Linked DNA regions of Homo sapiens. The protein of the gene in region 2 binds, or shares a complex with, the protein of the main gene of each other region. Each region holds a gene or a part of one and is shown on either strand. Other genes may lie near its edges.

Evidence for each region.
Region 1: the proteins of MLF1 (region 2) and YWHAE are in contact, whole or in part, in a crystal structure (PDB 3UBW), measured with the Homo sapiens proteins. Residues at the interface, in NP_071888.1 of Homo sapiens: Arg31, Ser32, Phe33, Ser34, Glu35, Pro36, Phe37; in NP_006752.1 of Homo sapiens: Lys50, Asn51, Arg57, Arg61, Lys123, Arg130, Tyr131, Glu134, Pro168, Gly172, Leu175, Asn176, Val179, Tyr182, Glu183, Leu219, Ile220, Leu223, Asp226, Asn227, Leu230, Trp231.

What each region holds. Positions count from the first base shown.
Region 1 is NC_000017.11:1,343,775-1,348,460, forward strand, and holds the end of YWHAE (14-3-3 protein epsilon), read right to left. Parts: intron 1,726-4,686; coding exon 1,673-1,725; 3' UTR 501-1,672; downstream 1-500. UniProt on the Homo sapiens protein: Adapter protein implicated in the regulation of a large spectrum of both general and specialized signaling pathways. Binds to a large number of partners, usually by recognition of a phosphoserine or phosphothreonine motif.
Region 2 is NC_000003.12:158,602,046-158,607,058, reverse strand, and holds the end of MLF1 (myeloid leukemia factor 1), read right to left. Parts: intron 4,253-5,013; coding exon 4,120-4,252; intron 1,963-4,119; coding exon 1,857-1,962; 3' UTR 1,111-1,856; coding exon of another isoform or gene 1,089-1,110; 3' UTR 603-1,088; downstream 1-602. UniProt on the Homo sapiens protein: Involved in lineage commitment of primary hemopoietic progenitors by restricting erythroid formation and enhancing myeloid formation.

The sequences.
Region 1 (4,686 bases), on a different chromosome or scaffold from region 2:
AAGACAAGTGTGACGAGGAAGGATTTATCAACTGAAAAATGTTTACTGACACAGGGAATCTAGAAATGTACCTTCCAGATACATACAAATATTTAAGCAAAAACTGTTCCAAGGGTATTTCCTGCAGCACCTGCCCAAAAGGAGCAAACTGGTCTTAACAAAATCAGGTGTACATCAATGTTACGCAGTCAGAATGAGACACATCTGAATGCCTAACATAAAAAGATCTACAGTAACTAGGTATCTATACACATTGATGTATAAACTGTTTATGGAAAGAAGCTTCTTATACAGTGTTTCTGGAAAGGGAGACTGCTATCCTGCTGTCTATAATGTGTGTATGGATTACTAAGAAAGGATTGAGTAATTCTCCACTACTGCCACTAGCCTCTGGAGGAAGAGGGCACACAGTTTTTACCTCTAAGAATTATTATAAGACATTCAGCCTTATTTGGTTGTATGAAATACTATGCTAGAAAATGATCCATAATTACACCTTGTACTACTCATGTTGTACTTTAATGATTAAAATAAATACCATGTTGCTGCCTGGTCTGGAGGACAAGACACACCATCAACTGACTCAGTGTTCTTCACAACCAGACTACAGGCAATTTTTTTCCAAAACATACATCTTTGGGAAGCAAACAAATTATTTATGGAAGAAAAAAGGAGGAATGTTTCACATTCAGGCAAACATAATACTGTCAGTGTGTTTGGACTAGAGATTTTATTTTAGAAGTATAAAGGATGGAGGCGCGATATTTGGCATTTTTAATTTAGGTTTGTTTTATTTAAGTTTAATGTTAATTCCATGCTGTGTTTCAGTAAGAACAATACAGATTCTGTATCTGTGGCTCCAGTCAGATATCCAGTAGTACAAATTAGCTTCAAGTTACACATACTGAACAAAAGAGGTTGAGCGAGCGAAGGAGGGGAGGAGTGAGGGGAAGGAGGTAGGGGGAGGGGGAAGGAGAAGAAACAAAAGAATTGAACAGGCATGCAGGCTTTTCCATACCACCTTCAACGCTAACCTGCTTCAGTGGGAGAGTAAAGTAGGCAAGAATGAGCAGCCACGGATTGTTGAACTGTTACCAGCACCATGCTTTTCAGCAACATTTCAGCGGAGTTGGAAACATTTTTTACAGCAAAACCATTACAACGAAGTCCCTCCCCAAACCACCTTTAACCATCTCAAGCTAACACCCAATTACTTGCAAACACTGGTATAAAACACAGTTTAAACAATTAGAAAAATGAAAACTGATACCACTTATGCCTCTATAGTGTGATTAACCTCTCTCTTAGATGCTTGCATCACCTATAAGTCTAATGGCTTTCAAATGTAATTTCCATTTGCTAATGGTGATCTTGCCACATCTGGCACGGAGACGACACAGTAATGCTGAAAAAGCCTCTATGTAGTCCTGTTAGTGTCTTAAAGAACCTAAAAGCTGGGACCAGTAAAATCCACAGAAATTCACTCTTGCCTTTAAGAACTTTTGAAAACTGTTTAAAAAAAAAAAAAAAAAACCAACAGGGCAGGAACCTAAATTCTGAGACCAAATGTAAAAGTCAGATTTGGTGGTTCTCAGTGACAATGGGGAGTTTCCAAAGGGTGGGATGGGGAGGAGGGGGTGGTCAGAGATGGTTTCTCTTGTTGGCTTATGTCTCACTGATTTTCGTCTTCCACGTCCTGCAGCGCTTCTTTATTCTGCTCTTCACCTGTTAAAAAAGAAAAAAAGTCAATTATTTCGTATTGACTACATTAGGCTATGGCAGCCACAAACAAAGGTGTCATTCCAAGCATAAAGACTCTTCTACTTGCTACAATTGGTATTAAACGCAGGCAAAGGACTTCTATCATCCTTGACACCTGAGATGCCTAAGCCAAGAAGGGATTATGGTCCTGAAAGTATTTATTGGTCAACAGAATGAAAAAAACTGATGCGCAGTACAACTCAATGTTTTTACGCTAAATAAGCTCTTGACGTAGACAGCCAAGGAAACCATCTTACTAAAATGACATTCAAGCTTTCACATAAATCTTGGGTCAAAATACTCTTTCTCAATAACCTCACCTCTTCAAGAATCAAGAGTATTTTGCAAACTTTTTGCAAAATCTAATTTACCCACAAGCTAATTATCAGAAATGCTTCAAAATAGTTAACTGAGCAATAAACTGTTGCCAAGAAGTTCTATCGTATTTTATTGTGGGGTTCTGCTGTTATAAATATTTCAGCTTTTGTATCTTGGCCAGATACACCAAACTATAATCAGATTTTACTTCAGAGTGAAACACAGCATGCTCAAAGTAAATCAGACCACTGAGGTTATTAAAGAATGGCATTTGGACCACTTCACTCATGCTATTTGTCTTTTGCCTTTAAAGAGGGTGATTACCCTAAGGAGTTTCAACTGCACTATGACATGCAACAGAAAGCCACCTATTGGTTGGAGGGTCATCTACCTATTAGTATGCATTAAACAAGTCAGCCAAAATAAAGAAGCATGCAGGCTTTTCCCTTAAAAATGATGTAACAGGTAAAAGTTACATTCACTTGTACTTTTTTAAAAAAACCACTTACAATTACTACACAGTTAACTAGTTTGAAACAAAATAAATGAAAAATCAACCCAAGAATCATAAATGTTCAAATGACTATCCATTCATAATGCTTGTTAAATTATTTAATTAGGATGGACAAATAACACCAAACTAGCTGCCTACACACATGAAGCATTTACACTGAGTACAGCTTTGAAACAGCCTAAATGATCTCAAAATGACAAATGTCACAGCATCAAGGTTTCAGTAGTTTTCAAATCTCTTCTGCGGCGGAAACGCTTGACATTGCTGTGTGACTTCAAAACCCACTTACAGCCTCAGCAACACAGTGAAGCCCTGTCTCTACAAAAAATGAACATAACGCCGGGCACGGTGGCTCACGCCTGTAATCCCAGCACTTTGGGAAGCAAAGGCGGGCGGATCACGAGGTCAGAAGATCAAGACCATCCTGGCTAACACAGTAAATCCCCATCTCTACTGAAAAAATAATACAAAAAATTAGCCTGGCGTGGTGGCACATGCCTGTAATCCCAGCTACCTGGGAAGCTGAGGCATGAGAATTGCTTGAACCCAGGAGACGGAGGTTGCAGCGAGCCAAGAACATGCCACTACACTCCAGCCTGGGTAACAGAGTGAGACTCCGTCTCAAAAAAAAAAAAAAAAGAATAAATAAAACTAAAAGTAAAAAACTATGTATGCTGGAGCCAGGCATGGTGGCTCACGCCTGTAATACCAGCACTTTGGGAGGCCAAGAGAGGTGGATCATGAGGTCAGGAGATCGAGACCATCCTGGCTAACACAGTGAAACCCTGTCTCTACTAAAAATACAAAAAAAAAAAAAAAAAATTAGCCAGGCATGGTGGCAGGCGCCTGTAGTCCCAGCTACTCGGGAGGCAGGAGAATGGCGTGAACCCAGGAGGCGGAGCTTTCAGTGAGCCAAGATTCTGCCGCTGCACTCCAGCCTGGGCGACAATCGAGACTCCGTCTCAAAAAAAAAAAAAACTACATACGCTGGGCATGGGGCCACATGTCTATAGTCCCAGCTACTTGGGGGGCTGAGGTGGGGGAGTTCTATTTCTGCAGTGAGCTTTGAACGCCACTGCACTCCAGGCGGGGCAACAAGAGCAAAACTCCGTCTCAAAAAAATGTATAAAATTTTAAAACTACTTAAAATACATGAAGATCTTTAATTCATAAGACAGAAAAAAAATATGCAAAGGCAAAAAAAAATTGCTTAGGGATGAAAGAACTGATGGGCACCCAACTGTTCTCCAAAGGACAATAACGTATTCAAACGTAGGAAACATGATAGGAACATTCACTCTAACAGCAAATCACTGCCAAAGTATCATTAACACAAACACTAGAACACAACTCGCTTGTAAGCAACCATGAGATGTGCCAGAAGTTCCAAGTAACTTTGGCATAAAAATGTCACTGTCATATACATCACATCCAACCACAGTAGGCAGGAGGAGCAGGCCGGAAAAGGCTTAGGTCAGCGCCCTGGAAGGTGGAACAGGCAGAGTCTGTAAGCAACAGGACGATCATACGCAGGCATGATTAGTGAAGAACCAAAACTGAAAGCGGAATTCACTGTGCCATGAACGTGACTTACAAAGTAGAGTTTTTAGGAAAGGAAGAGTTGGGTTTTCCTTTAGGAATCTATATTGCAAGGAAAAAGGGAGGGAGAACAATCATATGAAAGCAACATTACAAGAAAAATAAACCAACAGAGCAGGACAAAGGAAAACAATGATACAGGAGCCGGACTTTGGTCTTACTTCGTGTAAACTTCACTCTAAGCAACAATCTGTCTACTCCTCCTCCCTTCTACTCTGAGAAGGAAGTAATATCCTCTTGAAAGACATACAGATATTAGGGGAAAAAGGATTCCTTGGCTATGTTTCTTTGCCCAGTGTATCTACATTTTGGAGAGAGGGGAACAGGCAGGGAGAACATGTATTTCCTACCTATGGATTCGTATATGAAACAATCCTCTTACCACAGGGTGAAGAGACTAAAATCACTTGAGAAAAAGCAATGATCCCTCCCTTTAAAGAAATTATGTTCCAACATGCTGGGACAGACATTAACATATTCTAAAATTAAAAGAC
Region 2 (5,013 bases):
GGGTTTTGCCATGTTGGTCAGGCTGGTCTTGAAGTGACCTCAAGCAATCCACTTGCCGCAGCCTCCCAAAGTGCTGGGATTACAGGCATGAGCCACTGCGCCCGGCATGTATATAGTTTTAAATAGTTTCAATTTACAGACTAACAGTATTAAACACCCATCATAAGAAGTTGTTGCAAACAAATATTATTCTGGGGTATAGATATCGATAGTTATGTTTTTATGGTGCAAAGATAGAGTTGACTTTTAAGAAAGAAACAGAACTTTTCTCGGTACTACCATCTCAAATTCTGCCTCACCACAATCTCTAACTGCAATCTGATGTACAGGAATTATACTGTTAAACACAATTATTTATTAAAGGGTGTTTTTAGATTTGACTACAATGATTCAAGTTATCATCAGTGTAATGATTTAGGCAAAAGGAAAATCAAGTATGTACTTTATTAAGACTTTGCTCTATCAGGTTAATTTATATCAAGATGTTATTTAAAATGTGTGCCTTATGACAATTTCCCAATGTGTTATGGTATGTTAGGAGTATACTAAAGTATGCCTAAAAGGAAATTTTTAACTAATACATGCTCAATTTCAACAATGAATTAACACATTTGCATTTTATTTTAATGACTAAAGGCATAAAACACAAACTAGTAAAATTAACAAAAATATTATATAAAAAATTAGAGAAGTATGAACATAGTCATATAATTTTACTTACAAAATTGAAAAGAAAAATACTTAGGATTATAGAGTGATAGCAATTTTTGGGGGCTTTTTTCCTTGACAGAAATATTAAACAACAAATGTGAGTTAAGATTTTATATTCTTATAAACTTCAAACCTAACTTTTATAAGAACAGACTGATGCTTAAATTCTAGAATTAAAAAGCTAAAGCTGATTTTTAATGGTATAATTAAAACAGAAACAACTGAATTATTAAGACGTTGCTCAAAAACACCCATCAGCTGTCTAACAGATTTTGAGACAATGTATCATTCTGGTTTGGAGAATACCAAATGCATTTTTCTAAATGTCACAAAAAAGCTGAGCAGAGTTTCTCCAAGGACTCTCCAGCTTCAGAATGTTAACCTTGGAGACAGATGAAGCTGTTTGTGGGAAAGGAGAGTAGAAATATGCCACATTAAGAAGTTAAAGAGAATGGTCAATATAATATCTGGTGAATATTAAGAATGTAATATAGAAAAGATACATTCTATAAATAAATTATAACCAAAACAATCATGTACATTAGCAATTTAAAATATTTTTCTCTGAAAATGAACTATTTGATTATCCTTGCCCTTTATCAAAATAGTAACTATTTTCTCATAAAAGAGTACTAGTGTAGTTTTGCTTTATTATTTTTAAAGTTTTAAGCTAGTTGGCTTTACAACACATTATAAAATTAGAGATAAATTATTTAAACCTTTATTAATATCACCCTAGTACAGTGTTAGTAAAAACTGAGACTTTTTTAACATTATAATTTCTTATAACTAATTATAAGTGATAGAACTGCTCTGCAATCAATCTTGATAAATATAAAAGAATATTTAGCCAACACAAAAACAACTGGGGAAGCGAAATAAGCATATAAGCTTTAAAAAATTAGTATGTTTTAAAGAGTTTTACATTAAATAGACTCAATTTACTCACATTGTTGAAAATCAAAATTTTATTCCTAAAAGAGGGACAATATAAAGCTAGGACCTTCATGAACATTCAGATATCAGAAGAAAGTTGCCAAGGACAGAACTGATTTAACAGCAAGAGATTGGTCTTATGCTTATTACCCAGCACCATTACTAACTGTTAAAACAATCAAAACTAAACAAATCAAATGCATGGCTATTTATTTTTTGTTGCTTTTCACAGATGAGCCTTTGATGTGGAGTTTGTCCCCCAAAACATTTGATCTCCTTCCATGTTCAATGGCTGGACTTTGTTGAGGTTTCTCCCTGAGAAATATACATGTGAATATTAATATCATTTAAAAAATGGCCAATGGTTTATAAATCAATACAAACATGTTAAAAACCACTGTAATATAAGAAAAGTTTTATCTTAAAAATTCCTTAATGGCTTTGAAAAACAAGGCTGGCCAGGTGCGGTGGCTCATGCCTGTAATCCCGGCACTTTGGGAGGCTGAGGCAGGCAGATCACAAGTTAAGAGATCGAGACCATCCTGGCCAACATGATGAAACCCCATCTCTACTAAAAATACAAAGATTAGCTGGGCGTGGTGATGCGCGCCTGTAGTCCCAGCTACTCAGGAGGCTGAAGCAGGAGGATTGCCTGAACCTGGGAGGTGGAGGTTGCAGTGAGTTGAGATCGCGCCACTGCACTCCAGCCTGGCGACAGAGCCAGACTCTGTACCCCCTGCCCTAAAACAAAAAATAAAAAACAAAAAAAACCAGAAAATAAGGCAGACTATTTCAGTGAATTTAAGACAGCAACAGCTGTTTTCCTGTTAGATTTAACTGTTTATAGTTTAAACACTGTTTAATGTTAACAGTATGGTAGTCACTAACCACATTTATATTTGAATTAAAATAAAATAATTCAGTTCTTCAGTTGTACCAGCAATGCTTCAAATGTGAATCAACAGCCACATGTGGCTAGTGATTACTACACTGGACAGAATAGATATATAGCATTTTTGTCATTACCGAAGTCATTTCAGAAAATGCCATTGGACAGTGCCGGTTAAGAGAAAATGCCACTGTTAGGGCCAGAAATTTATAGGTCATCCATAAAGAGCATGCCTTCTCTAAGTGCGACCTGGATTTCCTATTCAAACTTGGCACTGCCAGGTTTTTAATCAATACATTTTTCAAATGAGACAAATATCTATAATGAATATGGGAGCAAGTTTTCAAGCAATTCAATAGAAAATACTAGGGCTCTAAATTCCTAAACAAGTATTTTAGAAGAAAAGATCCTAGCATATGAAATTCTGCATAAGGCTTCTGATTTACTTGATACTCACTTGTCCACTGCTAGTTCTGTGAAGGCTTCCACCTTCTGTAGCAATTTTCCACTTTCTTATAGCTTAGAACAGATTTCTATTTAAGGTCTGGTGAGGCCTTTGAGTGTAACTTCATAGGAATTAGATATTATTATCCATTTATTCCTCTGAGAACCACATTAAACTGTAGCTCCAGAGTATGTACAAAATGTATTTAAAAACTCTATAATATTTATTTATTTATTTTTGAGATGGAGTCTTGCTCTGTCACTCAGGCTGTAGTGCAGTGGTGTGATTTTGGCTCACCACAACCTCTGCCTCCCAGGTTCAAGCAATTCTCCTGCCTTAGCCTCCCAAGTAGCTGGGATTACAGGGTGTGTGCTACCACACCTAGCTAATTTTTGTATTTTTAGTAGAGACGGGGTTTCACCATGTTGGCCAGGCTGGTATCGAACTCCTGACCGCAACTGATCCACCTGCCTCGGCCTCCGGAAGTGCTGGGATTACAGGTATGAGCCACCATGTCCAGACAGAAATCTCTATAATCTTTAATATGTGGTTTCAGCAAATTTATTTTTCTCAGCTATTCTAAAAGGGAATTCTAAAAGAAGCTAATGTTCTTGCAAAATTCTTCCAAAATATCTAATACACATCGAATATGGTATTGCATGTACTGTTACATATTATACAAGTGTCTGAAATTTACTATTAAATGCTAAATTTTGATTTGTTAAGAAAGTTGTTAAGTCTTCCAAATAGAGCCCCTCTCCCCTTATCATATCTCTAGATATCTTTACCAGTGTGAAATGTATGACTCTATCTATATCCATATTACAATGTGTTTTACAAGAATAACTACACTACAGGATATCAGTTTTCCTTAAGAGGATTTTGGTCTCTGTCTTCTGAGGCATAGTTTACTAGTGAATTACTAACCATAAAATCCTAAACTATTATTGATTTTTAGATATAAATTTAAATTTGTGTGGAATAATCAGCTTTCATATAAAATTATTACATCTTTCACAAAAGATACTGTGGATACAATTTGGATGATCATCAAAACTTTCTGATAACAGAAGTAAATTACATAACTTTACTTCAAATTCTTCTTAAAAAACCAAACTATTTTAGAAACAACTTTTACCTTCTTTTAAGTTCTCGGGAGCCAGGATTCTCATGGCCAACACTTCTCATTCTAGTGTTTCCTAGATTGTGTCGTCCTGGTTTGTACTTCAAAACCTCACTTTGCCACTCCTCATCAAAAGCATGAGCATCACCTATGTCAAACAGAAAAATAATGGGAATAAGTATTAAGGTATCAACTGTCAGTAACTGCCTTGCTCCCACATATTTCAGTCTAGTCTGGTGTTTTCATTAGTGTAACCTCAATACAGAGGCAGGAAGCTGCTTCAAATATAAGGGTCTTTGACAAAAGTAGTATTTGTTTTCCTGTCTGTTCCTCTCCTATTCCTACTGATGATCTAGTTATTGATGATCTATTTTTTCAACTGCCTGGATAACATATTATTCTACCCAATGGACCAGCTGACCTAATTATATTAACTAACAGTTTTTCTTCCTGGGTCATCTCACAGTGAATATACTCTTCCTGTATAGTGTATACTTCTGTGGCTAGCACTTCTATTCACCTAACCATCTTTCTGTGTAACTTGACCTCACAAGTTTCTGTTGTCAATTTCCTAAGACAGGTTACTCAGCTAGAATGTCAATTCATGTTGTTATGAAGTAATCTAACTTCCATAATAGCAACAATAGAGACATGATAGTACTTCTTAAGACTGCTTTAAAATATTATGTTCCTTCACTCAATTTTTCATCAAAATGTTGATTATTGTGAAATACTCAGTATATATATAAATGTGATAAAATTACAGAGGTTACAAATAAACACAGGTCACAATATCATGGCTTCTATCTTACTGCATAAGAATAATTTTATCAAACCCCAGCCAGGTGTGGTGGCTCACGCCTGTAATCCCGGCACTTTGGGAGGCTGAGGTGGGCGGATCACAAGGTC